Linked DNA regions of Homo sapiens: regions 1, 2, 4, 5, 6 and 7 are each reported to be linked to region 3. Evidence: microRNA targets listed by miRTarBase, many of them from high-throughput screens and not tested one by one. Region 3 holds a microRNA gene; each other region holds the end of a gene's coding sequence.
Evidence for each region. The annotated mature microRNA hsa-miR-124-3p reads UAAGGCACGCGGUGAAUGCCAA and lies in region 3 at 2,057-2,078, opposite strand. An mRNA with a match to its seed (bases 2 to 7 or 8) in the 3' UTR can be bound and repressed. Matches are read on the target gene's strand: a 7mer-m8 pairs with bases 2 to 8, a 7mer-A1 pairs with bases 2 to 7 and ends in A, and an 8mer does both.

Region 1 (4,000 bases), not on the chromosome of region 3:
GTACATTTAAGTATTTTTTGTTTTTAAAAACAGTGGGAATAAACTAATGGCTCTAGTTTGTAAACAAAGATCTCTAAAAGGAAGTGGACACTCTAAGTGATATCATCTTCTTAAGGTGGCTCTTGTGTAGGCTCTTTTAAAACATCCCAGTGGTTGTGTGAGTGTGTTGGTTGAAAAACCAGTCTCCTACTTTGTAGGAGGCTGGTCTGTCAGGGCCCTTCTCTTGCCTGGGGTTCAGAATTTCTGCTTTTGCATTGATGGTAAAAGTTGGCCTTGGTCCTGCTGTTTCTGCCAGGGTAGCATTTGTCAGAGCAGAGTCCAGGCAGCCCCACCATGTCCCCTGGAGCCTGTGGGCAGCATTTCTCCTGGCAGCAGTTCTGAGATTGGTGGTGGTACTGTTGGCAGCCTGACGGTTACCAGAAAAGAGGTATAGAATTTTCTCTCTTTCCCTCTACTCATTTCATTTTCTCTTTTAGTCTGAACAGCAGAAGAAGCAACAGGAGGCTGAGAAACTGCATCGACAAGAAAGGAAAAGACTCCGTCGTTCGGCCGGACACCTGAAGTCAAGACACAAAAGAGGACGGTCGTTTCATTGATTTGGGAAGTGGTCCTACCTGTGATTAGGGAGGGGTACGTCTCCCCCAAACTGATCATCGTTAGGGTGTTAAACACAGACGAGGAAACACACGTTTTTAAAGTTCATGTACGTTCTTGTACACAGAGGTAAAGATTTGAAAACCTGTGCCTTGTGGGTTGGACTTTGAAGCTGGCCCCGCCGACGGCCACCGCACAGCCCCAGGGGTGTGCTTGCGAGTCGTTGCTCCCTGGAAACATTGTCCTTTCCCCACGGCGTTAATCATGAAAACCAGGCTGGGGTTTTTTTAATATTGTGAAATGTACACCATGAAATGAAAGGTTTATCCTGTGCCAGAAACCAAGGTTTATCATGCTCTAGGAACTTTTTTCTTACACTGCCTACCGCCATTCATGATTAAACCATCCAGAAATACCATCCCTGTTTTACCTGGTGTCTGTGTATTGCCTGTGTTTGTGTTTATAAGTTTATGCTGATAGGTTTGTTCGGCTTGTTTATGTATTAGTTTGGGATTTGTTTTTAAATAATTTATACCAAGAGAGTATAATCTAATGGTGCAGGTTGAGAGCATCCCAAATCCGAAAATCTAAAACTGTTTGAGCACTGTATTTATCTGTTCTTGCACTGCTATAAAGAACTACCTGAAACTGGGTAATTTATAAGTAAAGAAAAGAGGTTTAATTGACTCACAGTTCTACAGGTGGTACAGGAAGCATGGCTGTGGAGGCCCTGGGAAGCTTACAATCGTGGCAGAAGGTGAAGCGGAAGCAGGTATGTCCTGCGTGGCTAGAGCCAGAGGAGGAGGGCAAAGGGGCAGATGCTGCACACTTTCAAACACCAGATCTCCAAGAACTCACTAACACAGAATAGCAAGGGGGAAGTCTGCCCCCATGTTTCAGTCACCTCCCTCCAGGCCCCTCCTCCAACACCGAAGATTACAATTTGACATGAGATTTGTGTGGGGACACAGAGCAAAACCATATCAAGCACTGACATGACATTGGAGGAAAATGCTCATTAGAGCTTTTCAGGTTTTGGATTTTCAGATTTGGGATACTTGACTAGTAAATATAATACAGATATTCCAAAACACACAAAAAAACCAAAGTCTAAAAGACTTCTGGTCCCAAGCATTTCAGATAAGGGATACCCAACCTGTAATAATGGGAAACAAGCAGTAGAGGCTGTTGGTTAATCTTGGCACAAGTTTAATTACAGGTTTTTTTTTTTTCCTGTTTCTTAAGTACAGTCAAACATAAACTTACTGGAGGAAACATTTATAAAAATAAATATACTTTCATTTGAATAGCTTCTTTGAGAAAGACTCCAAGAAAATTTTTTTTTCATTAGTCAAACGGTGGTGTGCACTTGTAGTCCCAGCTACTGAGGCTGAGGTGGGTTGCTTGAGCCTGAGAAGTCGAGGCCAGCCTGGACGACAGAGCAAGACCTGCGTCTCAAAAAAAGAAAGAAGAGAACCAACTTTGGTTTCCTTAGTTTTTCCAGCTTTGATGTGATTTTGGAGGTGCCTTTATAGATTTTTAAGGTTCTTTATATACAACTGAAATAGTAACTCTTTGGACTGTGAATGATACAGCCTAATTTCGAATAGCATAAGCCGAGAGGCAGAATGCATTAATTTACATCACCATGCTTGGGACATGGAACTGGCCTCAGGAACACCTAGATCCATGGCTCCACGGTCAGTCAGCTAGCACATGCGCACTCTATCTCTGTTTCCCTCTTTCTCTCTCTCTCCTTCCCCTACTCCCTCCCTTCCTCCTCCTGTCTCACCATTGTTCCTTCTCTCTTCAGGCCTCCCCTGCTGTCTTTTCCCTATGTGTTTCCCGTCCCCCTGCCTCTGCTCTCTGTGCTGCTTCTGCTTCTGTGCAGATTGGCTTGTTCCCAAGGCAGGGAACAGCTCAGCCATGTGTCCACTTCTGTGGTCCGAGAAATGAGGTCTGTTTACAGAAAAAAGGTGTGTGGAAGGTGGGGTATGTGTGTATGTTCTTGTTCCTGGGGCACCCAGCCCCATTTGTGCTGTGGTACCAGGGAGTCCTCCAGCTGTTCCAACCCCTGGACCGGTACTGTCCTTTTTCAGCTTCTTTCCCCCTAAACTCTTGCTCACTGTCCACCTCTTCTCAAAGGAAGTGGCTGCAGCTTCCTGTTGCCTTCTCTTCTCTGTTTCTACGCTGCCTCCCTCAGGGATGGGGGGTTTTAAAAATTTAGAGAGGGACATTTTGCTGGCTGGAATGTCCCCAGGGGTTGGGTGTTTATGCCCTTGGCCTGTTTCCTGACGTCAGGGTCTGTCACGTCTACTCCTGGCTTTCCCAGGCCCCTCTTTTCCTTCCTTCTTGAAGGGCCTCCTGGTTCTGTGGGGAGCCGGTATTCCGCAGGGCCAGATTCCACAGGCAGCGGTGCTCTCTGTTCACCCAGCACTGTCAGCACACCAGGAGGTCAGGACATCAGGGTAGAGGAGGAGGGCCAGGATCACTTCTGGGCACCTGGGAGGCTGGCAGTTTAGTAGAAAGAGCTTGCATTTGGAACCACCCTGACACAGGGTCGAATTCCAGGTCTGTTGCCTACTAGTTCTGTGTCTTTTGACTGTTGCCTTAATCTCTGTGAATCTCATTTCCTCCTGTAGATCAGCCTAATACTTAGTTTTTATTAGAGTAAAATGAGGCACTTACATTAGGTACAGCACCTGGCACTGTGCAAGGCTCATGAGGATTTGACAAAGCTTCTTGACCATTGAGGGTTTTCAAGAGCAGGGGAGGTGACCTCGGCTTTTGTTCTGGAGAGTTGCTGAAGGGCAGGCGGAGGGACTGCCCTGAGTCTGAGGGACACAGAAGGAGTGTCCGCTGACGACAGCTATATGGGTACTCCTCCTAGGCCTGACCCGTCCCTCATTGCCCCAGTTTTCCTACCGATTCAGCCCTTAACGCAGGCCTGCCTCTTCAGGGCTGATTCCCAGCGTGCCTGCTCTAATCCTTCATGTCTTCGAAGTTTCCTGTTTCCAAGTTTTATTCAGCTTTCATACTCTACTCCATAATTTTTCCGTGTGTGTGATATACTACTCACTAGTCCTAGGAAATGGCCATTTCCCATGGGTCTCTGTCCCAGGCACGCACAGCTGGGGGTGTTCATGAGCCAGTGCGAGAAGCATTTCCTCACAGATGGGGCCCCGAGGGCATGGCTTTTACAGCGGGACTGAGCTGGGGGTTCCTGGGCTGCCATTTCTCCCCTTCCCCTGCTCCAGATCCCCTCAGCCTCTGACACCCCAGACCTAAGGCCCAAGTTTGTTTATTTGTTTCCAAGTTTGTGCTCAGCAGTTAGGATAATGGTGGCTTTGGAGAGAGGGGGGAACATGGCTGGGAGGGACGTGATGGGGGATCCTGTTTGGTCTTG
Region 2 (4,399 bases), not on the chromosome of region 3:
ACATTGCAACTGAGATTACCAAAAAATCACAGGATATTTTGTTAAAATGGGGAACATCTTTGGCAGAAAGTCACCCTTCAGAGTCTGATTTTTCACTGAGATCACTTTCTGAAGACTTCATCCAGCCTTCACAAAAATTATCCTTGCAAAGCCTATCTGACTCTAGGCATTCAAGAACATGCTCTCCAACACCTCATTTTCAATCAGATTCAGAATATAATTTTGAAAATAGTCAAGACTTTGTTCCATGTTCACAGTCAACTCCAATTTCAGGGTTCCACCAAACAAGAATTCATGGGATAAACAGAGCTTTCAAAAAACCTGTATTTTATTCAGATCTTGATGGTAACTATGAAAAAATAAGGATTTTCCCTGAAAATGACAAACAGCAAGCCAGCCCAAGCTGTCCAAAAAATATAAAAACACCTAGCCAGAAAATCAGAAGCCCTATTGTATCTGGTGTTTCACAACCAGACGTTTTCAATCACTACCCTTTTGCTGAGTGCCATGAAACTGATAGTGATGAATGGGTCCCTCCTACCACACAAAAAATATTTCCTTCAGATATGCTTGGATTCCAAGGCATAGGTCTAGGGAAATGCCTTGCTGCCTATCATTTCCCTGATCAACAAGAGTTACCAAGAAAGAAACTGAAACATATTAGACAAGGAACCAATAAAGGTTTAATTAAGAAGAAATTAAAGAATATGCTTGCAGCAGTTGTTACGAAAAAGAAAACTCATAAATATAACTGTAAAAGTTCAGGCTGGATTTCCAAATGTCCAGACATTCAAGTCTTAGCAGCACCTCAGCTGCACCCTATTCTTGGACCTGATTCTTGTTCAGAAGTCAAATGTTGCCTTCCATTTTCAGAAAAAGGCCCACCTTCAGTGTGTGAAACTCGAAGTGCTTGGTCACCTGAATTGTTTTCATAAAAAGTCACCTGAACCCAATTCCTGAACTTTTAAATCTGTTTGGAAATGTTTGCCTTCAGGGGTACGGAAAGCATTCTTTACATTTTGAACACTTGGAGAGAAGCAAATTGAAAACAGGACTCTGCTGGGAGCTACTGTGCCTTTTAAAATATAAAGCCATTGTTTTCCCCAGGGTTTTATCTAGAATACTATGATTAGGTAGTTGAGCACTTTATCTTATACTGTTTATTGTACTTTAATAATATTGTTAAGATTGTTTTTGAAAGTATTAATGTTTGTTAAAATCACATATACATCCAGAAATAAAGACTTTGCAAACCAAAACTTAGTCTTTTTTAATTGTTCAGCTCAGACCAGAAAATGCCAGCTATATTATAGGCCAATGAGTGTGCTGAGTTTGGGATAGAAAGCTACAAGATCACTGATCTTAAAATATGTTAGTCTGCTGGATAAGACAGATAAACAGGTAACTTCAATACAGTGCAGAAGATGCAATGATATGGGTTTGTAATGGGCATGACAAACATTTACGTTGCTATGAGAGCATGGAAGAAAAGCAGCTAACTCATCAGTGAGCTGAGGGTAAGAAGAAACGTTTTAAGAAAAAAAGCTATTTAGAAGTTGTATGTGAAACTGTTGCTATTTTATTTAATACGTATACACTGAATGCCTACTCTACATGCCAAGGGCCGTGCTTAGTGCTGGAAACTGAAGATAAAAATCAAGCTCCTTCCCTCAAACTCATGAGCTATTGGAATAATCAGGTAATTAGAATCTGGTAGGTTCTATGATAGGAGGTAAGCTTGGGGTGCTAACAGGAACAAAAATGAAAAGCAATTTTCAGACACTCAAGTCTTAGCAGCAGCTCTGCTGCACCCTGTGAAATCTTTCACATATACCTGGCCAGGTTCCTTTGCCATTCCCCACAGCAACCATTCCAAAACAATACTTTCTTCATGCCACAAAGCAACTGCTACTCTCCTTGCCTCCTACTTCATGGACAATATTGAGATCACTTGATATTTTCTCAACTTCTCGCACCCATACCTACCCACATGTCTATCTGTACTCACCCACAGCTGCTTTCCTCTAGTCTCAGAAAATACCATCTAAGTGCTAATCTTTCCATTTAGACTATTGATCTATTACACCCATCTTTGAGGTCTTATACCAAATATTCCCCCTATATTTTCACCTTCTTGCCCTACTGTGTCTCTCCCTCTCCACAATTTTTTATTTTGAAAATTTGCAAACAGAAAAGTTGAAAGCGGCCGGACGCAGTGGCTCATGCCTGTAATCCCAACACTTTGGGAGGCCGAGGTGGGCAAATCACCTAAGGTCAGTAGTTCGAGATCAGCCTGGCCAACACGGTGAAACCCTGTCTCTACTAAAAATACAAAAATTAGCCAGGCATGGTGATGCATGCCTGTAATCCCAGCTACTCAGGAGGCTGAGACACGAGAATCACTTGAACCTGGGAGGCGGAGGTTGCAGTGAGTCAAGATCTTGCCACTGCACTCCAGCCTGGGCAACAGAGTGAGGCTCTGTCTCAAAAAAAAAAAGTTGAAAGAATAGCACAATGATACGGAATGATACGGTATCTGTACATACCATTTAGATTCAATCATTTTAAACATTTTGCCTTTGTGTGTGTGTGTTTGGTTTCTGTGTGTCTAAATAGATACAGTTTTGCTTTGCTAAACCATTTAAAGGTAAGCTGCAGACAGGACATTTCACCCCTAAATTCTTCAGTGCAAATTTTCTTAAAGGCTTCTCTCTACATAGCCACAGTATCATTATCACACCAAGGAAAGATAACAGTAATCCCCAATATCTAATATTCAGCCCATAATCAAATTTTTCTACTTGTCCCCAAATTATAATTGTTATTTAACCAGAATTTCATCAAGGTTCATCCATAGTGTTTGCTTGTCTCTTTTTCTAGAACCTCACCTCTTATTTCACATAATAGTAACTTTATGGAAAAAAAACCTCAAACCACTGTTCTGTAGAATGTCCCACATTCTCGACTGGTATGTTTGCTTCCTTATACTATCAGTACATTGTTTCTCTACCCCACCCCAGTCCCCACATTTCCTGAAAATTAGGCCTAAAGACTAGATGTGATTCAGGTTTTGGCAGGGATATTCCATGGCTCATGTTGTGTACTTTATGTTGTAACACATGAGGAGACACAATATCAAGTTGTTCCACTATTAGTAATGCTAAGTTAGATTGCTTGGTTAAAATGTTGCCCACCGGATCTCGATGTTAAATATACTTTATTTTTCCTTTTTAAGAGTAAAGAGTCAGTGGTGGTAAATTAGTTTGCTTTTCCTTCTATCACTACAGACTCAAGAATTTTTATTTTTCCTATGGAAAGAAAAACAAGCCACGTCTGGTAGCTTATGCCTGTAATCCCAGCACTTTGGGAGGCCGAGGCAGGAGGCTTGCTTGAGTCTAGGAATTCAAGACCAGCCTGGGCAACATGGCAAAACCTCATCTCTACAAAAAATTAGCCAGGTGTGGTGGCACACGCCTGTAGTCCCAGCTACTTGGGAGGCTAAGGTGCACCCAAGAGGTGCAGCTTGCAGTGAACTGAGATTGCGCCACTGCATTCCAGCCTGGGCGACCCTGTCTCAAAAAAACTGGTGCATATTTATTGTCCAATCATTTCATACAAAGATTCTTAATTCTTTCTAGACTGTTTCCTAGTCTTTGGGACTAGGAAATAGTCTGTGTTCTTTTTGTCAGATGTTCTATTCCTGGCTAATTTCATACCTCCCTCTGTGATAAAAGAGTAACGATGCTGTTAGTATTTACAATGTCATGACTTCAGAAACTGTTTTTGTTGAGCTATATAGATCTTGCCTTAGCAGTTACCTAATGTCATTTGTTTAATGCTAGTTCCTCTGTGATGCAGCATCCGTTGTGCTACTGTGAATACTGGTTTCCAATGATCTCTCAAAGGTTGTTACTATACTTTGCTGGTGACTACCGAAAAGCAAGTCCTACCCAGAGTGTGCAGGAAAATAAATAATAATCCATTTTTTGGTCCTATTTACCATTTGTACTAAATATTGCTTCCCAACCATGCAGTCTTTTGAACATTTTAGGCTGCAATTACTGCACTCCTATACTGTGATCTCTTTCAATGTTGGCTGCACCCTGGAAGGATAGGCAAGAGCCTATCCTTGCTCTGTGGTTGGAGCAACAAGAGCGGTTCCATTTGTGCAAAGAATATCTATTCCTCCATCAGCATGGCTTAACGCCTAATCTGGAAATCACAGTGTCACTATCAACTGGAAATGAGAGGACATTGATTGGAAGTGCCCACTGGCATTGTGGACCAACAGTCTTAAAAGGCCTCAGAGAAGATAGGCATGGCCTGCAGAAGGGGGAAGGGTGACCTTCCTGGTGTCAGTGGCTGGAGGCAGACAGGGTAAATAACAGCTGCCACTACC
Region 3 (4,399 bases):
TGCCCACCTTCCTGTGACCCCCTGAGCTCCAGCCCAGAAGCCACAAGTCTGCCCTGGGGGCTGGGGCCCAGGTGCACCACTGGGGGCAGGCATCAGGAGAGGTAGCTCCCTGACCGTGACAGAGTCCAGGAAGCTCTTCCTAGGAGACCCCACAGAGACTGACTGTCTAGGGACAGTGCCAAGGGCAGTTTGCCCATGCGCTCCCACCAGCTCTCAAGTGTCCCCCTCCCCAGGCTACTGACATGGAAGGTCCATTCTGGCTAGGAGCCAAGTCCCCTCCCCAGGAAGGAAAGTGGTACAAGAACAAAGCCCCAGCCCCCATCTCTGGCCCCAGAGGAGGGAGCAGCCAGGGGCCACCTTCCCTCCGAGGGAAGGGCCAGGCTGGAGGTCAGAGCTCCAAGAGGAAGCTCCAGCTAGGCTAGGGCCACATCTTGTACCCCGAAGGAACACCCCACTCCCACCAGTCCCTTTGGTGTTGTCCTGGAACGATCCTGGGGCCCCTTCCCCTTCTCTAGGACCAGAAGTGCCCCTGGGGGATGCTGCCTGTCCCCTCACAGCGGGAGGAAGGAAGAAGGGGACGCCAAGCCCCGGGGTCAGTGTTGTGGTCAGGCCGGGGCTTGCTGGGGCTGCCTATGCCACTTCTGTGCCCTCCAGGGGGAACCTGCCCCTGAGGAGACTGGTGGACCGTGTTCTGACTCTGCCTGGCTGACTGGGGTGGGGGTGGGAAGATGGAGGCACCAGTGGCTCCTGCTTGTGTCTGCAGCAGGCGACTTGGGTGGAGGGGCTGGAGGTCTGTGCTGAGGACAGCCGCAGAGGCAGGTTCCCTTTGTGGCCCTGCAGCGGCGGTGGTGGGGGTGGAGATGCCACTGCCTGAAACTCAAATGGTTCCTTTTATCCTGATCTTCTGCTCCCTGCCTTGGGCCTGGAGCTGGGAGAACTTCAGGTGACTCAGACTCCTGCCTCGGATTGAAGCCGGGGAGGAGAGGCTCAGCCTCTACCTGGTTAAGAGGAAAGAGGCAAAGCTGCAAAGCCAGGTCTGGCACTCGCCCCAGGGGAAGGGGGCTTTTGGGGAGGGGGTCGTCCTCTGACTGTTACCGGGGCATCACAGCCCAGCCGGGGCCTGGGATGGGCGCGGGGGAGGCGGCGCAGAGGCGGTGCCGGGCGTCAGCAGGTGGCGCTGGCTTCCGGGGACAGAAAAAAAACCCCTGCAGCAAACCCGAGTGGGTGTCACTGCGGCTGCAGATGGCGGCGGGGGAGGGATTTGTCATTTTCTCCCTGGGCTGCGGAGTCTCACGTGCCTGGTCCTGCACAGCCCAGAGCCGGCTTTGGGGGCGGGATGCGGTCCGGCGTGTCCACCGCCCTCGTTTGGACCCTGGACGCGGACGCAGACCCCCGTCCCCATGCAAGCCTGGTCCTGGGCTGCGGGGGCTGCTCTGGGGCCACAGCGAGCGCCGCCTCCGCCCCGCCCCGCGGCGCAGCGGCCCGAGGAAGGGCAGACTTAGCGGTGACCTCAGACCCTGCCCCACCTCCTCCCACGTTGCCGTGGCAACTGTCCAGGGCGCCCGCTGTGGGGGCGAGGGCCGCACTTGGCCGCCCTCCCGTCCCGCGGGGGCCGCCCCGCCGCCAGCACCGCGGACAGCGCCGCACCCTAGCCCGCCGCCCCACGCACCCGCCCGCCGCTCCCCGTGGACCCTCCCTTTGTCTCCCGGGCCCCGCCGCCCTCTGCGGGCGCCTGGGCGCTCCGCGCTGCGGACACACGTGGCCGGGGGCCGGCTGGCCGCAGCCTGGCCCCGGCCGCAGGCTCCCCCCTCGGCCGCCCTCGGCCGCCCCCACCCGCCCCGCGACGCCAGAGGCGTGCGGGCCCCTTTGTGTCCCGCGGCCAGATCCCCGGCCCGGCAGCTGGGCCGCACTCTGGGCGGGCGCATTGTTCGCCGGATTTGTCCGCGGCGCGAATGGCCGCCGGGGGCCGGGCTCGCCTTCCTCCCGCGGGAGGGGCGCTGGGCCGGACGGGCTCGCGGGCCATTTCCATGAGAAAGGAGCGGCGGAGGCGCCTCTCTTGGCATTCACCGCGTGCCTTAATTGTATAGACATTAAATCAAGGTCCGCTGTGAACACGCAGAGGGGCCCTCAGGGCTGGGGCGGGCGGCGAGCGTCGGGGCCAGGGTCGGGACCGGCTCGGGCTTGCGTGGGGTCCTCGCCCGAGGGGCGCGAACGCTCAGGCGTCTTCGCCGCGTGGCGGGCAGGGCGGGGGCGCTGCGCTCAGCCGACTGTGCTGTCCCAGTCCGCCCCCGACTCGGAGGAGCCCACACTTCTCCCCTTTCCGCGGCAGAGAGTGGGCCCCCAAGTGCGTCCCTCCGGGCGTTCCTGGAGCTGGGGCGCCCGGGAATCGCGAAGACGGATTCCGGGGGTGGGGGTGGTGAGCGCGTGCGCACCCGGCCGCCTCCCGCGGGGCTCCGAGGGGCGCAGAACCGCTCCGACTGGGCGGCGCGAGCTCCTCCGCAGCTGCCTTCCCCTGCCGTCGCCCTGCCCGTGCCGACCCAGGAGCGCGCACCGAATGCGGTTAAAAGAACGAATCTCGATGCTCAAAGATGAAAACTCGTCTCTTTTTACAACCCAGCGAGCTCGTCCTCTCCGCGCGCAGCGGGCCCGCGAGAAGGCGCTCGAGCTGTTCGTGGAGAGAAAGACGGGGAGACCCAGAGAGGCCGCTTGCCCGGCTCGCCCCGGCCCGGCCCCGAGCGTAATTACCAGTCCCGGCGGGAGCCGCTGCTGCCGCCTCCGCTCCCTGCGCCTCCCGCGCCGCCGCCAGTTCCCGCCTGCTCTTCGGCTCCCGGGGGCCCCGCGCGCTGCTGCCCTGGGCGGAGAAGGGCGCGGGAACCCCGAGAAGGGAGCCAGGCAAGTCCCCGAGCGCCGCAGGCCGGCTGCGAGCCGAGTGTCCACGGGGTCCACGCTGCAGGCGCCCAGCTCCTGCTAGCCCGGCCCGGCCCCGATGCAACTGTCCCCGCGCCCGCCGCCGCCGCCGCCGTCGCCGTTGCCTCCGCGCGTATCCGCGCTCCGCTCCGGCACCGGCCGATTATCACTGGGGCGCGCGGTGACGTCACCCGGACACCGGCCCCGCCGCTGCCTCCCCGAGGTGTCCTTGAGAACTGCGGGGCACGCGCGCCGCGCACACGCGCACACACGCACTGCGCGCCTCGTGCCTCCCGCGCATTCGCACCGCGTCCCGCCCCGCGCGCTCCTCGGCTCACGCGGACTCAGCCATCGAGCGCCCTCGACCGTGCCCTGCGCCCGGCGGCCACACGGAGACCCAAGGAAACGCCTGTCTCCCACACACTCCAGCCCCTCACATGGCCCTCCTGCACCCACGCGCGCAGCCCCTCCAGCTGCACATTGACACCTCTAGCCACACCCCGCCACGCGCACGCCTCGCCACGCGCACGCCTCGCCGGCACGCAGCCCAGCGGCACCCGCAGACACGCACCCGCACTCGGGCCCTGACCGCGGGTTCGCGTCTCCTGTCTGGCGCCTGCAGAACGCACTCTGCCGCGCAGCTCACACCGCGGTCCTCCAAGCCTCTCAGTCCTGAGAAAGGCAAGGGTCCCGCCGGCCTCCTGCGGATGGCCCTGCTGGGCTCCGTACAGTGGGGTGGGAATTAAAGGTCGTCCTTCCCCGCCCCCATCGGAGCTTGCGGTTCTCACAGTTTCAGACCGGGATGGGAGCTCTTGCCCGTAGGGACCACGGAATCACAGGCGACACTCCACGGCCCGACTGCAGTCACTGCCAGCTCGATAGGGTCCTTGGGGCGCCCCCGATCTGGCCCTCTAGGGCCAGGGATCAGTGGCTTCCCCAAGCCTCACCGTCCGGAGCCTCCCCCGCTGGCCTTTGTTTAGACTGCAAGGAGCGCAGGCCGGCGCGGCCGGCAGGCCTCTGTCCCCATCTCCTTCCTCCTAGGGCCAACCCAGCCCCTGCGCCATCTGCCCTCGGAGCAGAGCCTGGGCCTCCCTGGGAGCAGGTCCTGCTTCCTTCCTTTTCCACCCTCTCCAGCACTGCCCAGCCCATGGACAGCCGGTTAGGAAGGGCGGCAGGAACTCGGGTTGGTTCTGCCCGCACCGACTCCGCCGGTCCTCAACCATCAGGACGCCCCTCCCCCTTTGGTGCGGCTTCAACCTGACCCTTCCCAGCCGCAATTCCTCGCCCTTCGCAAGTGTCAGGGACAATCTTTCTTTCTCACAGGTCACGCACAAGCCCTCTACTCCTCCACAGCCCAAGGGGAACCTTCTGTTCCAAGCGCAAAGCTCTGGAAGCTGCCCCAAGCCTGCGGGTGCCGGCAGCCTCAGCAGGTGCAAGCCGGACGCTGGAGGGGCTGGAGGGCTGGGGAGGCCAGGCTGCAGCAGCCCCGCTT
Region 4 (4,399 bases), not on the chromosome of region 3:
GAAGCGTGGCCTGGAATTAGCCTGGGGCAGCTGGCAGGGTGGGGGTGCTTCCAGCTTCCCAAAGGTAAAGCACTGAGAGTTTGGGGCCTGGGCCTCCTGTGCTGCTCCTAACCACTCAGCTGACTCCCCTGGCCCTGATGTGTGGCTTGATTTTTAAACACTAAACAGCTTGTGGTGCCTAACCTGTCAGTTGCTGGTAACTTTGTAGGCCGTTTACGAATGGACAGAGCGGGTGCCCGGGTAAGTGCAAGGAAGGCGCCCCCAGGCTGTGTCCTCAGGGCCGCTGTGCTCCTTCACAGATGGCCACTCCTGATGCTGGGTGGAGTTTTTGCCCCCACTCCTTGCCTTACAGGCCATCTCTTTCCTTTTAATTAACTTCCAGCCTAAACGGCTTTGTTCTTTTGGATGTTGACGTCACACAACGTGCTGTGGGAGTTATGCACGATTTTCTACTGGCTGTTTTGGGGGAGACCAGGTGTTGTAGACCCAAATTTAGACTTAATTTCAGTACTACTAGTACATGCCCTTAGGGTGACAGGGCAGACTTCTCGTCACATAATGAAAGCGGGACGTCGCTCCTTTAGTCGTCCTCAGCTTGTGCTGCAGTCTGTCTTTCCGGCGGGGGGACCCAGGCCTGGGACGGAGTCTGGTGTTGTCAGCACACTGCCCACCAGAAGGAGCTAAAAACTACCCCGAGACTGAGTCTGTATTTTATGATATTAGCTCCATCCAGCCGTACAGTAGAGTAGACCATATTTTAAGTTTCTTGTCTTGGTAAAAATCTGTAGAGTAAAATAAAATGGCAGTTTCGTGTGTGGGGCTCCCCCATCTCAAGCTGCCCTTTGAGATCTGGGCAGGAACCCTTAATCCCATCTCTCACCTCACCCACTAGACCTTGTGCCGGAGCCGACTACTGGAGATGACAGTGATGCTGCCACCTTTAAGCCAACTCTCCCCGATCTGTCCCCTGATGAACCTTCAGAAGCACTCGGCTTCCCAATGTTAGAGAAGGAGGAGGAAGCCCATAGACCCCCAAGCCCCACTGAGGCCCCTACTGAGGCCAGCCCCGAGCCAGCCCCAGACCCAGCCCCGGTGGCTGAAGAGGCTGCCCCCTCAGCTGTCGAGGAGGGGGCCGCCGCGGACCCTGGCAGCGATGGGTCTCCAGGCAAGTCCCCGTCCAAAAAGAAGAAGAAGTTCCGTACCCCGTCCTTTCTGAAGAAGAGCAAGAAGAAGAGTGACTCCTGAAAGCCCTGCGCTAACACTGTCCTGTCCGGAGCGACCCTGGCTCTGCCAGCGTCCCCGGCCACGTCTGTGCTCTGTCCTTGTGTAATGGAATGCAAAAAAGCCAAGCCCTCCGCCTAGAGGTCCCCTCACGTGACCAGCCCCGTGTAGCCCCGGGCTGACCCAGTGTGTGCTCAGCAGCCCCACCCCACCCTGCCCCTTGTCCTCTCAGAGCCTCAGCTTCTGGGGGAGACATGCTCTCCCCACAGGGGGGAGGCACTAAGTCATGGTCCTGGCTGGAAGGTACTGAAGGCTTCTGCAGCTTTGGCTGCACGTCACCCTCCTGAGCCTCACCTTTCCTGCCGTCCCTCCTGTTGTGAAATCACCACATTCTGTCTCTGCTTGGCTTCCCCTCCACCCTAAAGTCTCAGGTGACGGACTCAGACTCCTGGCTTCATGTGGCATTCTCTCTGCTCAGTGATCTCACTTAAATCTATATACAAAGCCTTGGTCCCGTGAAAACACTCGTGTGCCCACCAGCGGCCTTGAAGAGGCAGGTCTGGGCCAGATGCTGGGCAGGAAACCCCAGCGGCAGATGGGCCTGTGTGCACCCAACGTGATGCTATGCATGTCTGACCGACGATCCCTCGACCAGAATCAGATTCAGGAGCTCAGTTTCTTTTTCACTTGGGTCTCTGGATTCCTGTCATAGGGAAGGTATATCAGGAGGGGAAGAGGCCTTTCTAGAATTTTCTTTGAGCAGGTTTACAATTTAGCTTACATTTTTCGACTGTGAACGTGAATAGGCTGCTTTTTGCTTTCTTCTTTCCAGACCCCACAGTAGAGCACTTTTCACTTATTTGGGGGAGGCTTCAGGGGACTGTTCTCACCTTAACTCAGCCAGAAAGATGCCCTAGTTGTGATCAAAGGTAACTCGAGGTGGAGGGTAGCCCTGGGGCCCCTCGACATCACCGTCATTGATGGAGCCTGAACCGTGTGCTCCTCGGCAGATGCTGTTGTTGTTACTTCCCTCCAAGAGGCTGGAAAAGGGCTCAGAGCTGCTGAGCAGGAACCGGAGGGTGACCCATTTCAGGAGGTGCCGGTACCAGCCTGACTAGGTACAGGCAAGCTTGTGTGGGCCCAACAGGCCCTTGGTAGAGCTGGTGCCAGATGTGGGCTCAGATCCTGGGCATGATGGGCCGAGCCACCTCGGATCCCACTGATTGGCCAGCCGAGCGAGAACCAGGCTGCTGCATGGCACTGACCGCCGCTTCCAGCTTCCTCTGAGCCGCAGGGCCTGCTACGCGGGCAAGCGTGCTGCCTCTCTTCTGTGTCGTTTTGTTGCCAAGGCAGAATGAAAAGTCCTTAACCGTGGACTCTTCCTTTATCCCCTCCTTTACCCCACATATGCAATGACTTTTAATTTTCACTTTTGTAGTTTAATCCTTTGTATTACAACATGAAATATAGTTGCATATATGGACACCGACTTGGGAGGACAGGTCCTGAATGTCCTTTCTCCAGTGTAACATGTTTTACTCACAAATAAAATTCTTTCAGCAAGTTCCTTGTCTAAATCTGGGAAGCAGTTTTATATTTTAATTTCTTTGTTCCCATGTTTGTCTCGTGCTGAAAAGAGACCTCCTAATGTTCATGTCTTGATAAAATGTCACCTGCAGCCACGCGTGCGGCAGGACGTGCCACCCAGCACTCCTGGTGTCCCTCTCCACGGGAACTCAGGGTGTCCAGGGAACTGCTGGCCTGTCCTTGTCCCCATGGTCCCAGTCTCACTGTCACTGTGTGCTCATGTTTGATGGGGAGGGCTCTGTGCTGGGGACATCCTGCCAGGGTGCGGGGCACACTGCCAGATACCACCTGGCCAGGGCTGACCCCAGCCTTGGAGGAGCCTGCCTGAGTGAGTCCCCAGGCTGCCACTGTGCAGAGGGGGAAACTGAGGGTCTCAAAGAGCCTTGGACCCTTCCGGTCAGTGGAGCCATTCATTCAGCTCCAGCTGCCTTTCCTGGTGTGGGTAGAAGCACGGCTATATATGGCGAAAGGCACTTGGTATAAAACAAACAGGTGCTTTATTTCATCATCAGAAACCTGGTGCATAGTTTAAAAAACAAACAGAAGCCCTGACAGCCTTGGAGTGCTGCAGCTCGGAGTCACTGAAGGAGTAAGTAAGTCTGGAGGAGCTGCCTGAGCTTCCTGCTTAGGGGCCGGCCCCCACCCACAGGGTCTCCCTGGACTGGCGGGGGGTGGGGGTCAGGCAGTGGGCAGGGGCCTGACCTAGGCTCCCACTCTGCCTGGTGCCCACAGCCTGGGCACAGTGGCTCAGCTACTCAGCCTTGAGCGTCTGTGCCGGGTAACTCAGCTTCTGCAGGAGGAAGAAGGGGAGCAAAAAGAGCCCGGACCACGTGGTGAAGCAGGCCTGGGCCCCGGCCAGCCAGTACACTGCGGAGAGACGGTGGCGTCACCCAGTCCCCGAGGGGGCTGGCACTTGGGAGGCGAGGGCAGGTGCTTGGCCCCCAGCCTGCCCCAGCACCATCCCGCGCCCTCACCTGAAGCGGCCACCAGGGGCCCCGCGGCCCTGGCCAGAGCACCTAGGCTGCGCAGTGTACCCATGACCGTGCCCTTCTGCCCTGGTGAGCCTGTGGGAAGAGGCACAGTCAGGCACCACTGCCCTTCTCCCGCTCAGGTGGCTTCGGCCGAGGGAAGGGGGCTCACCATAGCCAGCGACCACGGAGGACAGGCAGGGCACCACAACGGCGGCGGCTGGTGGGAGACATCGAGGAGGTGCCCGTCAGCCCAGGGGAGGGTGCATCACCCAGCCCCTGCTGCCCATCGGATCCCCTGCCAGGGCAGGGCCACTCACCAAAGGAGTAGAGCAGCAGCCCCAGGCCCAGCACGGGCAGAGAACGTCCCCAGCCGATGAGGAGGAAGGCGGGCACCAGCAGCAGGAGGGCCTGCAGGTGGGCACGGCAGCCTCAGCACAGCCCGTGCCCTGCAGGACTCAGGGGACTGCCTGCCACCCGCTTTGGAGGGAGCCCCCTACCCGCTTCACGGCAGCAACTTCCCCGCCAGGGTGGATCCGCCGGGCATAGGCACCCTGGATGGTGGCCATGGTGAGGCCGATGAGGAAAAACATCTTCCCCTGCTGTAGGCTGGGAGCGGGTGT
Region 5 (4,399 bases), not on the chromosome of region 3:
TAATTTATGTAACATTATTACATCTCTAAAGGTTTGTATTTCTTTCAAACACCATCAGAAACATCAAAATTTTTTGAAACATGAGCTGAAACATGAGAGTAACATATTGTTACTCTTTGAGAAAAGGGAGGATCCTCCTTTATCAAGTTAATGCCATGTTTTATGCTTGGATAAGGGCTTATCCACTTGGCCTTTGATCTTGTGACTGTCACCTGTAACTGAAAGAGTAAGTTACTTGTCTGACAACTTGTAAGCAACTAAAGATGTCAAAAAAAAAGTTTGCTCTATTTTGTCTGTACTGTGATGTATGTAATGAATGAACCTTTTTAGATTAGATGGGAAGCTCTAGAAATTCAAGGTACATATCTGTTTTACCTACAGTATACTTAATGCCTATCATAAGTTTCAAATTAATATGGATTTGAGCTTTGATTAAAAACTCAGTATTAATTAGCTGCCATCTAACAATATTTTTTTCTAGAAAATACTGTCTAACATATCTCTTGATTTGCTTTCCAGGTTGCGGAATATACGTTATGGTTTTAATACTATCCTTGTGATCCTCATCTGGCGCATTTTTATTGCAAGATCACAAATGGCAAGAAATATCTGGTACTTTGTGGTTAGTCTGTGTTACAAGTTTTTGTCATACTTCCGAGCATCCAGCACTATGAGATACTGAAGACCAAGGATTCAGCATTAGAACATCTATACATATGGTGATCTAAATGTACAAAATGTAAAATGTATAAGTCATCTCACTTTTTGTCAAGACATTAAACCATCTTAGATCGGAGTGTGAAGTAAATTATGGTATATTTTATGTAACATTTTAATGTTTATGCTCATAAAACTTAGTGAACACACTGTGTTATGCCAGCTCAAATCTACAGTAGCCACCAAAACCATGACTTAATATTTTGAGCCCTAGAAGAAAGGGGTGTGCTGAGGACAAGAGTGGGGAAATAGGAACACTGACCAGTATAACTGTGCAATTCTGGAACATATTAATTAAAATAATATGCCTTAACATATAGTGAATTTCTAATTCTAATGTTCAGTGCAATGGAAGACATTTATTTGGACAGTAATACTAGCAAAGTTGGTAGATATTTGATTCTTCATTTTTTGTTTTTTTCATTAGTTGAAGTGGGTTTTAGTTTTGTTTAAAATTATAACCAGCGTATTTTCACATCATTCTGTAAGTTAAATGATATCAAACATGAAAGAGATGTTCTCATTTTTCTTTTTCTGATTAAACGTCTGATGCATATCATTTTTCTATAAGTAATCAGTTGCTTTTAAAATCAGAAGGCTATATTATTCTAATGACCCTATTCGATCTAAATGGGTTTGAGAATCCATATCAGCAACATACGTGTTTTTTGACAGAAAGTGAAAACAAATTCCGTAAAACTGTTAGTATCAAAAAGAATAGGAATACAGTTTTCTTTTCCACATTATGATCAAATAAAAATCTTGTGAGATTGTTTATGTTTTGAAGCAGGAGGATTTCTTGAGATTTGATGGAAGTGGGAGTTGGGAAGGATTCACCATACTTGTGTTCTCCTCCCTTTATAAATTTTATTCATAGGACTTTTAAAAGGCTTGTGCTATCTTTCCAGTGAAAACTGAAAGTGCATTATTATGGAAGAATGTATTTGCAGGTAGTAATAGCATTAAAAAATATACTCGTGTGTAAACACATACTAATTTTGACCTTGAAAGATGAATTCCTTCAAGAAAAATAAAATAATGCTTAAGATAATGTGTACGAAATTAAATAAAGGACTTTATTTACATACTACATAAGGTAGCAAACTGTTGAATGAGTTTGAAGGTATCACTTATTTTTTATGCATGTGATTTTAGCTTTAGAAAGAAATGCGTTATAGAAACAAGTAATAGCAAGAAAATTGATGTATATTTTAATGATACATTAAAATTCCCTTTTAATCATAATAGTTAACTCTACTTACTGTTTTAACATACATTTGATTTAACAAATTGTTCAGCATAACACTTCTAATTAAGTTTATCAAGTTGTACTGTATTAGATAATCAGCAGTGTATCTGGAGTATGTTTAAAGAGAACAGTTCGCAATACAAAAAGTTACATGGAGCTTTACATCTTAACTTTCTTTGTCAATTTAAATGCAATGTATAAAAAGTTTATTTTGCTATTGTGAAAAACTAAATGTAAAGGAAATCACCTACTTTCATGCAGGTGTATAATCTTGAAAAGGAAAAATGCTTCCATGTTGAAGCCAGATTTTCTGTAGTAAAACTTTTAAATATTATTTTAAAAGAAATATGTATATAAATATCTCTATATTCTTTGGAATGATACTAAAGTCTCTGGTCTAGGACCATACCTTATATAAAGGTATAAGAGACCATGACAATGTCTGAAAATGGAATAGATAATGATGCCTTTTATTTAAAGTGGCCCACATAATATACATTGAGTACTCCATCTCTCCAAATGTATTTCCATAATGTGTTGAAAACATGCTAACATTTGTATGATTTTTATACTTCTGCCGAATAGACTTAGAATCAGATGAATTGTCTGTGTGTCTTGCAAAAGAGTTGGGGACAACTTGGGCAGGCCTATGAAGTGCATAGGGAGTGTATGTCTTCTGAATGGTTTTATTGTTCTTGTAATCTAGCTTAAAGAAATGTTAACTGGGAGGGTGCTGAGGCCACTCACTGCATTAATTTTGTGTGTTTAGAGTTCTGTTGTCAAAAGAAAACTAATGAATAAATTAGTTTGTCATTCTAGAATTTAAAGTTCTAAGATTAGTATAAAGAGTATATAGATTGTTAATCCCCACCAGCTAGACTTTGAACTTAAGTCAGACTTAAAGATTTGAGAAATTATTTGTGTCATTTACTAGACGTGATTTTTAGTTCTGTTTGATTATATTTCCTACACAAACTTCTTATTTAACAGGATAGCCTACTAAATTAAATGTTTCTTATTTCACTTAACTCATTTGATTAAACTGTATTCTAAAACATTTGGGGTTTTTCCCCCTATTCAGTTTTAATCTTGGAATATGCATTTGTAAATTGTGATGTCATTGAGACTATATTTATATTTGACTTGGCAACATTAACATGTCCTAAGACTTAGTGCAGAGAAGCTTGGCAGTACGTTCTTTGACTTAAGGATGGCATAAAATAATCATTTTTGAACCTGTGTAATAAAGCTTGAAAGCAGGGAAAAGAATTTCCTTTTCCCCCTTTTTTGTGTTGTCTATAGGAATTAACTTGGGATTGTTTTGTGGGTTTTTGTTTGTTTTAAATGTAAATTGAGAATCTTTTATAAGAAATAAAAGCATTATTGGGTGCCTTTGTTTGTAAACCAAAAAGTAATAAATGAATCCCTATATTTCCATTATAGTATTTATTGTATTTTTATGTTCTGAAAATTACCCATGGAACAATATGCTTAGGATTACAGGAAGCAGTCCTTACTTACACTTCTTGTCTGTTTTAGGTGTACTTGTTAATTCTTATGTCCTAATTTTATTTAATTCTGAGTTCCTTACACAGCATTTTAGGGAAAGAATACAGGCAGGATGACACTTTGTGTTAAAGTGTTATTTTTATGTATTACCTGGAATGAGGCAGGTTTTTTTCTGTTTTCTAAAAAGAGTAACCAAGATACCTCCAGGGTGTCATTGGGTTCCAGCTGCTCTCCTCCACATTGAATGATATCTTGTTAATTTATAGGCACATTTGTGGTAATTTATATGTCTATAGAGTAAGTATAAGAGATAATTCATTAGTAATAGGAATTAACTGACCCCTTTTGGATGGGGGAGAGCATCAGGCTGGGGTCAGGTAAGTGTAAATGGCCTTCTGAGCATGCTCTTCTAGGCTGACTCCCAGCCCTGACTTGAAACCATTAGCGCTAACTTGCTCTGTTTTGAGAAAAACTTTCCAAACTTTTGCATGAGAAACTAGAAAAAGGAATGTATGCCACGTAACTGGATTACAGAAATGAGTTAATTGTCTCTGTGATAAAAAAAAAAAATGAAATATTTTCTTATTGAATTAATATTTTTGTCTTGAAGCATTTTCTAGTGATAGAATGTATTTGTCTTTTTTCCTGGTGGTACCCTCTTAGCATATATCTTTGCTATCCTTAAGATCCTAAACAAATCATCTTTGTCAGTTAAGTATAGTTGCGCAAAAATTGTTAAATCCTTTGTCTTTATTAAAGAAAAATTTGAGTAACATTAAGTTTGATGTGCTCCTTTGCAAGTTGATGTCTCTAAAATTCATTTATTTAGAAAAACATGAAGTGGTAAGTATAAGTTTAATGTCTTTACCGTGGGCCTGAACTCAGAGAAATAAGGATATAATTGTTTTTTGGCCTGAGATCACA
Region 6 (4,365 bases), not on the chromosome of region 3:
AGCAGTGGAACAGGAAGCCCACCTCGTTGTCAGGGGCGTCCAGGGCCAGGTAGTACTGGCGGCCCGAGACCAGGCGCAGCTTCAGGCGCCAGGCAGAGAGGTCATGGACGCAGAGGTGGACGAGGTCCAGGGGGATCATCCTGGGAGAGGGAGAGGGGAGCGTCTAGAGCAGGAGGGGTGGAGGGGGCGGCCGAGGGGTTGGGGGATGCGGCACCTGGTCAGCACGAGGCCGGAGCAGTCCCTGTCCTCGGCGGGCTGGCCGATCAGCAAGATGTCAGGCAACACCAGGCCTGGCAGGGAGGCGGCCACGCCCATGGCCAGCCGGTTGGTTCTGTGATTCACGAACACTGGGCCCCCTTGATGGGTCACCTGGGGCAGCCAGGGAGAGGGGGCTGGGACCACTCCTTCCTCCAGCAGCCACAGCCTGAGCCTCCCTCCTGATCGTCCCCCACACAGTGACTGCTAAATCCCGTTCCCTCTCAAGATCCCCCAGCACGGGGGGCCTTGCTTCCCCTCTGTCCCTCTCAGCCCCGGGGCACTGGGAACTGGAGACCTGAACAAAGTTACTCTCGAACATGGGCAGCGGACGGAGGGGCAGGTACTCGCCCTTCTGGAGGGTCTTTTGCAGCTCCCCCAGAACAGGGACCCACTTCGGGGTGCCCTGGAGCGGCTCAAGGCACCTCCTGTTTCGAAGCCAGATCATGGTGGCTGTGGTGGATGGGTACTGGTTTAGGGACCCAGAACCCAGGCGTGCAGGCCTCCCAGCCCCGGCCCACCAGCCTTGACCCGTGGGGCTTCACGGGTGCCTGGAGCTCAGCGTTACAGAGCGTGGAGATGCCCCAGGCTGGGAGACTCGGGCCTCCGCCATGGCCCTGCCAGGGTGGACAGCAGGGGTCTGGGGGAGGAGCCTCTGGTGGAGGGGCTTTGTGACCTCATCGGACACACAGGGGCCTCTTCCAGGAACTCTCCGGGGACTGTGGGCTCCCTTCTCCTCCAGGGATACAGCCTGGAGTTTTTTGTTTGTTTGTTTGTTTTTTGTTTTTTGAGATGGAATTTCACTCTTGTTGCCCAGGCAGTGAGCTTAGATTGCCACACTGCACTCCAGCCTAGGCAACAGAGCGAGACTCCATCGCAAAAACAAACAGCCCTATGCAGTGCGGGGCCCCAGGCGAGGCTCAGACCCTGCCTCCACGGAGGAGGCACGATCACCCAGACAGCTCTGTGGAGGCAGGGTCTGAGCCTCGCCTGGGGCCCCGCACTGCCTAGGGCTGTTTGTGATGTGATCTCGGCTCACCGCAACCCCCGTCTCCTGGGTTCGAGCGATTCTCCTGCCTCAGCCTTCCGAGTAGCTGGATTGTATTTTTAGTAGAGACAGGGTTTCTCCATGTTGGTCAGGCTGGCCTTGAACTCCTGACCTCAAGTGATCCACCCGCCTCAGCCTCCCAAAGTGCTGGGATTACAGGCGTGAGCCACCGCGCCCAGCCAGCCTGGAGTCTTGAGGGCTATGATGGGTGAATCAAAACTCCGGGCCCAGGATGGGCACCTCCAACCCCAGACTCAAACTAGTGACGACACGGGGCCCCTGGAAGTCTGTCTGGGTTATTGTAAAGGGAAAAGTAACTAAAGCATTTGAATTATCATCCCTACTCTGCCATTGACCCTTCTCTAGGCCCTGGGTAAGACCCAAATCCTTACTGAACCTGTTTCTCCATATCTCATGTGTGTGCATGTGGCGAGGATTCCTCAACACCGACTTGCAAAGAGAGCTTTGGGAAAGAGCCAGACACGGCGCAGAATCCCACTTCCACCTCTCCCTAGCTGTGTGACTTTGTGCAACAGAGTCCCCACTCCTTGTCTGAGACTCAGTTTCCCTCGCCTGTAAAACAGGGCGTATTCAAGAGTCCAGGAGGATTGTGTAAGTAAAAAGCCCACACTTAGTGCACAGCCCTGACAGGCTCAATCAGCGGTCAACTTTGTCCCCTCCTGAGGGCTTATTTTTGGAGAGGAGGAGGCTGATATTCTGTTATTCTAAAAATAGTGTTTATTATTTTTAAAATGTGTCATGCAAAATACACAGTCATGGCAGAAATTCTGTAAAATACAGACAATCATACACATTAAAAGTCACCCACAATCCCACCTCTCTCCTTTGACCTGGAGACAGTCATTGTCAACATTTTGGCGTATTTCCCTTTAGGATTTTTGTTTTAATCCATATATAGAAAGAAAAACACAAAATTGGGATCACAGCATGCAGTGGTTTTGTAGCCTGCTGTTTCATGTCAGGACATCATTCTTTCTTTTTTGAGACAGGGTTTTGCCATGTCTCGCAGGCCGGTCTCGAACTCTTGGACTTCAGTGATCCACTCGCTTCGTCCTCCCAAAGTGCCAGGATTACAGGCGTGAGCCACCATGCCTGGCCAATGTCAGGATATCTTTCTATATCCCAAGCAAGCCTCTCTCCTTAGCCTCCCTGAATGACAGTCCCTGCTCCGGGCGGCTGGGTGGCGTTCTATCCACAGATGCACCATGTTGCTTAACCCTCACTGTTGGATATCTAGATTGTTTCCAGTTTGCTATGGTGAACACAGCCATAATGAACCATCTTGACCTTGCAGCTTTGTCCCATACGGGTACTGTTGATCACAGGGTGACTTGTGGAACCTTCCATTAAATATTTATTGAAGACCTATGGGTCAGGTGTGGTGGCTCACACCTGTAATCCCAGCACTTTGGGAGGCCGAGGCAGGAGGATCACCTGAGGTCAGGAGTTCGAAACCAGCCTGGCCAACATGGTGAAACCCTGTCTCTACTAAAAATACAAAAGAAATAAATAATTAGCTGGGCATGGTGGTGCACACCTGTGATCCCAGCTAATCGGGAGGCTGAGGCAGGAGAATTGCTTGAACCCGGGAGGTGGAGGTTGCAGTGACCTCAGATTGCCTCACTGCACTCCAGCCTAGGCAACAGAGCGAGACTCCATCTCAAAAAACAAACAAAAGGCCCTATGCAGTGCGGGGCCCCAGGCAAGGCTCAGACCCTGCCTCCACAGAGCTGTCTGGGTGACCGACCCATCTCCCAGTCGCTGCCCCGCCCACTCGGGACCTCCACCTGAATGGAGGTCTCCCCTCCACCTGCCCTGCCCCAGTTACCCAAGCATCCAGCCCCAGCTCTCAGACAAATCGCCCTCAAGTGGATATGTATGACACATTTAATTCCCTGTTCTCTGTCTCACAAAGGTTTCTCACATTTTTGTACAAAAACCCAGGCTTCCCTTTCCCCTCCGTCCCCACCCCAACATGAAAAGTAATTGCTTAAATAAATAATATATGTTCCTGCCCAGGCCTAGATGGGGAAGAGCCAGGGCAGAAGTCTGTGGACAGACTTCTTGGAGACCCAAGAATCCGGGACCCCAGTCCCCTCCTCCTCGGGGACCCAGGAGTCCACCTGCCTCCCACCCCTGCTCCTGAAATAAATAAGTATAAATAAGGCACAGATGCCCCCCAGGCCTCACGGAAGGACTGTCTCTAACTAGGGGGAGATAATGGCGGGGGGATCACCTGGCTGTTTCGCCCCCAGTACTGAAATAAATAAATAAATAAGATCTGGCTTTGGAAGGACGGTGGTGGCTTTGGGCCCCGGGTCACAGCCGAGTCTTCAGCAGCAGCAGTCCCCTCACGGCCCAGTCAAGTGTCAGGTGCAGCCCCCCCAGGATGGCGTGGGCGGCCCTGATGCCCCCCCAGGCTGAGGAGGGGGGCGCCAGCGGGGGCGCCGGCGGGTCCGGGGGTGGCTGGGGCAGGGCCAGGCGGGACATCTGTGGGGAGAGGAGAGAGGTGAGTCACAGGTAGGGGGTGCAGCGGGGGTGCAGGGCAGGGGTGCTGTGGAGCTGCAGCTGAATCGGGGCTGCATATTCACAGGGGGACTGTGGCGCGTGGGGTGAAGTGTTTAGGCCGGGAGCTCTTCAGGCTGTGGGGTTCCGAAAATGGAGGCTGGAGTCAGGACGGGCTTCCAGAGCTGAGTGTGGGGGTTGGGGGTGAAGTCTGTGGAGTCAGGGCTGGCATCTCGGTTCTAGGTGAGGGATCGGGCCTGGGACTGTTAGAGTCGCCGGGGCTGGAATCTCAGAGCTGGGTTTTTGTTGTTGTGGCTGCTGTTAGAACAATTAAGAAGCCAGGCGCGGGGGCTCACGCCTGTTATCCCAGCGCTTTGGGAGGCCGAGGCGGGCGGATGGCCTGAGCTCAGGAGTTTGTGACCAGCCTGGGCAACACGGTGAAACCCTGTGTCTACTAAAATACAAAAAAATTATCCGGGTGTGGCAGTGTGCACCTGAAGTCCCAGCTACTCAGGAGGCTGAGGCAGGAGAATCGC
Region 7 (4,399 bases), not on the chromosome of region 3:
AAATACTATGTTGATCTGCTGTGAAACTTCTTGAGAACTCCCTGAACAAGAGATGAGTAGATACTTGGGCCCAGGTTGTGGGCTGGAGCTTTCCATCTCCATGGTCTGAGCCTGCTGGAAACTGTCTTTCTCTGGCAGGATTAACTATGAGGAGAGCATGATGGTGCGTTTGAGCGTCAGTAAGCGAGAGAAAGGACGGCGAAAACGAGCAAATGTCATGAGCTCACAACTTCATTCCCTTACACACTTCAGTGACATCAGTGCTTTGACAGGGGGAACTGTTCATCTTGATGAGGTGAGGTTGAGATATGGTTGTAGTAGGATGTGACTTTCATGCTTTCAGCAAAATGTATGTGGGGCTTATTACCATGAGGAACTTGGGAAGGGATGCTGGCTCTCAGAACCACAGTGCCATTCCATCACTTCTCCATCTGTCTCCAGGATCAGAATCCTATTAAGAAGCGGAAGAAGATACCTCAGAAAGGTCGGAAGAAAAAAGGTCAGTGAACTGCTGGGACTTAGGTGATCAGGTGCAAGGTGGGGAGTACAAATTGAGTCTCTTTGGATTTGCCATTCTGGGTCTCACCAAGCCCTGTAGTATCTCTTCCATACTGGGCAATAATCTCCTTAGGTGGGCTTTTATTTTTTGCTTTCCTGAGCTGGAAATCAGCATCATTCACAAAATGAATCTCTGGATTCTGCCTCTAAGGTCCCACAGCTCCTGTTCAGGCTTCCCTAAATAGAACTGGTAAAGTGTCACTTGAAGGAACCATTATCCCATTTCAATTTTATTCCTACTTCTCGTCTTTTGTCCTGGGAAGATATTCAGGGTACTGCCTAGGAGACCCCACCCCTGTGAGCCCTTCCCTCTAGATGTCCTGTTTTCCTGTCCCTTTAGCTTTTCCAACTGTCCTTTGCCTCATTCTTGGTTTCCCTTCCTTTCAGGTTTTCGGAGGCGGCGGTGATTATGGGTGTACATATTTGTATATTTTTTGTCATCCTGAGATACTTCTAATTTCATTGTATATAGGTGGTTTTCCCTGGAATTCATTAATTGTTTGCTTTGGACATGTGGAAAGAGCCTTACTAATAAAATTGATTTTGCTTATGAATTAAAGCCCCTTTTTGCACATGTATTGTACGACTGGAGTCGTTGGGTTTGGGATATTTTTGGTGAGTGGTTGGTGAAAAGGGAAATTTTTTTTGGAAGTGCAAAACATTTGTATTGTTTTCTTTGATAATATATTTTTCCCAAAAACTAAAAATTGGTTACGTCACAAAAAGTATTGAGAGACGAGGCTGGTATAATCAACTCTTTCAACCCATGTTGCCACAACTTCCTGTATGATTTGTTATAATACAATACAGATTGAGATATTAACACATGAATTTTAGGTTTTATTAGTGTTATCTGGGCTGGCCACCAGGTGGCATAAGTGGTTCAAGAAACTTGAGCTTGGCTGTAATCAAAAGCAAGATAGAACCTTTCCACATCAGCAAGATTATTCTTATCTCCACTTCTCTGAATGTTTTTCATTTCTTTCTGAAATAGCATGAACATAAGGCTGATCTTTGGTCAGTTACTGAGGGAGTTTGTAGAAAATAGTAGAGTGAGTAAGAAGGCTAGAGTGAAGAGTCAGTATAGTCTTGTGTTTTTCAGACTCTGACCCCCACCCCCCCGCCTTCAACTGAGGGTCATTTTACCAGAGTCAATAAAGGCCAACCCTTCTATAAAGAGCTGGCAAAAAAAAAAAAAAAAAAAAAATGCCAGCAGACAAGCAGAACATTCCTAGCTTAACAGCCAAACAAATGAAAATCCCACAGAAATAATTAGCCAAACTCAAGCCAGGAGACTGGTGGGCGTTATACATCTGAGATCTTGTATTCTAATGAGAGAATAACCTCTGTTGGTGAGATGTCCCACAGGCCTTGGATAATACAGAAAGTGAAAAAAGGGATTAAAAAAAGATAGAAGTTGGGTCTGTAGAATTAATTCATTGGAGTTTTTAAAAAAGGCTTTGGGTCTCATGAACATCTGATTTTAATGTCTAGTATTGCTGGGTTATATCGATAGACAAATTAATTTGGGTTATATGACTAAAACCTCGTTGATTCTGAATTTCTGAATTTGGATTTATACTATTCAGCCTGATTGGGGCAGGGGTCTTTCACTCAGCTGCCGCTTGGTAGAAAGTAGTTAGGAGACTGGACCTATGGCTGTCTTAGGCTAATTCTGTGATCTTGGGCAAATCACTTAATATCCCTGGCCTTTAATTTTCCTCAGCTAAGGAATGTATTAGACTTCATCTGTGAGATTCCCTTCAAGTCAAAGAGCCTAGAGCTTTTGTGCATGACACCAAGATGGGCTTATGTCTGGGGCCGCTAACCTTTAGTCCCTGATAGATCTGAGAGAGTCTCACATGCCCTGGGCTCTCATACTTCTGTTTCCTCAAGGGAATCTAAACAAAGAGCCACAAGAACAGATTTAGAGACTTTTTTTCCTTTATGGCTGAACTAACTAGATGAGTGATTCAGTTCAAAAATACTTTAGTTAAAACCACTTCATTTGCTTGTTAGGACCACTATATTTGTTTCTAATTTATTAAGATTTGTGGATTATGGGAACTTCCAGGGGAAGGGAAGTGCTCTTTAAAAAACAAAACAAAACAAAACAAAACAAAACAGGTACTACCTTCTGGCCAGGTGTGGTGGCTCATATCTATAATCTGGACACTTTGGGAGGCTGGGTCAGGAGGATAGTTTGAGGCCAGAGAGTTCAAGACCAGCATGTTTAACACAACAAGACCCTGTCTCTAAAAAAAAATAAAAATAAAAAAATTAGGCAGGTGTGGTGGCGTGTGTCTGTAGTCCCAGCTGCTTGGGAGACTGAGGCAGGGGTATTGCCTAAGCCCTGGAGTTTGAGCTTGCTGTGAGCTATGATCTTACCACTGCATTCCAGACTGAATGATAGTAAGACCCATCAAAAAAAAAAAAAAAATTCCTGTGCTATAGGCTGAGCTAAGTGCTTTATACTTAATCCTTATAAATTTTTTTTTTTTTTTTTGAGATGGAGTCTCACTCTGTTGCCCAGGCTGGAGTGCAGTGGCGTGATCTCCGCTGACTGCAACCTCTGCCTCCTGGGTTCAAGCGATTCTCCTGTCTCAGCCTCCTGAGTAGCTGGGACTATAGCCACGTGCCACCACACCTGGCTAATTTTTTGTATTTTAGTGGAGACAGGGTTTCACTGTGTTAGCCGGGATAGTCTCAATCTCCTGACCTCGTGATCCACCCACCTTGGCCTCCCAAAGTGCTGGGATTACAGGTATGAGCCACCACGCCTGGCAATCCTTATAAAATTTATGAAATCTCCATTTTACTAGTGAGGAAGCTTAGACACTTAGGGCAAACAATTTTTCCTGAGTTGGAGAACCAGTGCTTGGGGAACACTGAGGATGGAGGACTTCAAGTGTCCTGTGGTTCATGAAAATCTTCAGGGTTAAAAAATCTTTTTTTATTTGTAGGTGGTTTATAATCTAGCTCCCCCGCCCTACTGCCCCATTTCTGTTACAGGCCTCGTCTTCAAAGAAACCCTAAGTTCCACAATTCTGGTCTCTTTGTGGTATACCAGTGAACACAGCAGACAAAATCCCTGCCTTTGTGGACCTTATATTAATTCAATCAAGTCTTTAATCCCAGGACATTTTGTTTTCCCTGGCTTTTAGGCATTATTTGAAAGAAGTTTCTGGTAAAAAGTTGAACTATTTCTGAGAATATTTGTACCAGAGTCATCAAACACTGTTTAGAGTGTATTGTTTGATGGAGTATTACATGGATTCTCAATATGTAAAACAAGCATAAGTGGGGTTACTTTGATTGAAGTGGGAATGAGGGGTCCTGAAGTTCCATGTTCTTATGACCCCCTTTCCCCAAGATTCCTGAGGAGCCCCCAAGGAACCTTTAGAATTCCTTAGAATATAGTTTGAAAACAACTGTTAGGGTAGTAGAACAAGGGAACTAAGAACTAGAATTTTAGGATTTCGTTATGGCTGTTCTGGTCACTTTTTTTCTTTCCCTTATTCCTACTAATAGATTCAGTTATCTGATTATTCAGACCATATGAATATCGGATTTCCTCAGTGTATTGCTGACAACAGATCATTTCTGGTGTTCACTAAGTAATAGCTGTCATTAATGCACACATGAGCACCTTACCTGTTTGGTTTTATCATGTGATGGTTTTGTCATGTGATAGCTTTATTCTGTAGAAGTAATTTACATCTCTGCCTCATTCTTTTCATCTTAGGGGACAGGGAAGAGAGTTTGACCAAGGTCTGTCTTTGCCTTAAAATCATTGTTTTGTTAGGATTTTATGAAGGCTTGGGGAAATGTCTATTGGGAA

Region 1: the mRNA of NOL10 is a reported target of hsa-miR-124-3p. Seed matches in the 3' UTR shown: 7mer-m8 at 742-748.
Region 2: the mRNA of DDIAS is a reported target of hsa-miR-124-3p. Seed matches in the 3' UTR shown: 7mer-m8 at 1,072-1,078.
Region 4: miRTarBase lists SLC75A1 as a target of hsa-miR-124-3p. The part of its 3' UTR that is shown has no 7-base or 8-base seed match.
Region 5: miRTarBase lists FAR1 as a target of hsa-miR-124-3p. Seed matches in the 3' UTR shown: 7mer-A1 at 1,023-1,029 and 7mer-m8 at 3,354-3,360.
Region 6: the mRNA of IL11 is a reported target of hsa-miR-124-3p. Seed matches in the 3' UTR shown: 8mer at 3,487-3,494.
Region 7: miRTarBase lists NGDN as a target of hsa-miR-124-3p. The part of its 3' UTR that is shown has no 7-base or 8-base seed match.

The regions. Positions count from the first base shown.
Region 1 is chr2:10,568,667-10,572,666 of GRCh38, reverse strand. NOL10 (nucleolar protein 10) reads left to right here. Exons shown (of 21, transcript NM_024894.4): 21 at 477-1,913. The coding sequence ends at 596. Among named protein-coding and RNA genes, the nearest start is that of NOL10, 120 kb to the left of the region's middle.
Region 2 is chr11:82,933,401-82,937,799 of GRCh38, forward strand. It overlaps DDIAS (DNA damage induced apoptosis suppressor), which reads left to right. Exons shown (of 6, transcript NM_145018.4): 6 at 1-1,259. The coding sequence ends at 935. Among named protein-coding and RNA genes, the nearest start is that of DDIAS, 34 kb to the left of the region's middle.
Region 3 is chr20:63,176,231-63,180,629 of GRCh38, reverse strand. MIR124-3 (microRNA 124-3) reads right to left here and starts at 2,130; the gene lies at 2,044-2,130. RefSeq lists a silencer at 1,346-1,635 and an enhancer at 1,923-2,883.
Region 4 is chr4:2,927,279-2,931,677 of GRCh38, forward strand. It overlaps SLC75A1 (solute carrier family 75 member 1), which reads right to left. Exons shown (of 13, transcript NM_001146069.2): 9 at 4,277-4,385; 10 at 4,097-4,187; 11 at 3,949-3,996; 12 at 3,783-3,872; 13 at 3,289-3,675. The coding sequence ends at 3,560. It overlaps ADD1 (adducin 1), which reads left to right. Exons shown (of 16, transcript NM_001354761.2): 16 at 893-2,784. The coding sequence ends at 1,245. Among named protein-coding and RNA genes, the nearest start is that of SLC75A1, 5.3 kb to the right of the region's middle.
Region 5 is chr11:13,728,093-13,732,491 of GRCh38, forward strand. It overlaps FAR1 (fatty acyl-CoA reductase 1), which reads left to right. Exons shown (of 12, transcript NM_032228.6): 12 at 520-4,254. The coding sequence ends at 682. Among named protein-coding and RNA genes, the nearest start is that of LINC02548, 54 kb to the right of the region's middle.
Region 6 is chr19:55,362,364-55,366,728 of GRCh38, forward strand. It overlaps IL11 (interleukin 11), which reads right to left. Exons shown (of 5, transcript NM_000641.4): 5 at 2,019-3,814. The coding sequence ends at 3,644. It overlaps GARIN5B (golgi associated RAB2 interactor family member 5B), which reads right to left and starts at 897. Exons shown (of 11, transcript NM_001145402.2): 1 at 554-897; 2 at 215-369; 3 at 1-140. The coding sequence starts at 703. RefSeq lists an enhancer at 704-1,308.
Region 7 is chr14:23,477,062-23,481,460 of GRCh38, forward strand. It overlaps NGDN (neuroguidin), which reads left to right. Exons shown (of 11, transcript NM_001042635.2): 9 at 139-295; 10 at 442-499; 11 at 946-1,112. The coding sequence ends at 965. Among named protein-coding and RNA genes, the nearest start is that of NGDN, 9.6 kb to the left of the region's middle.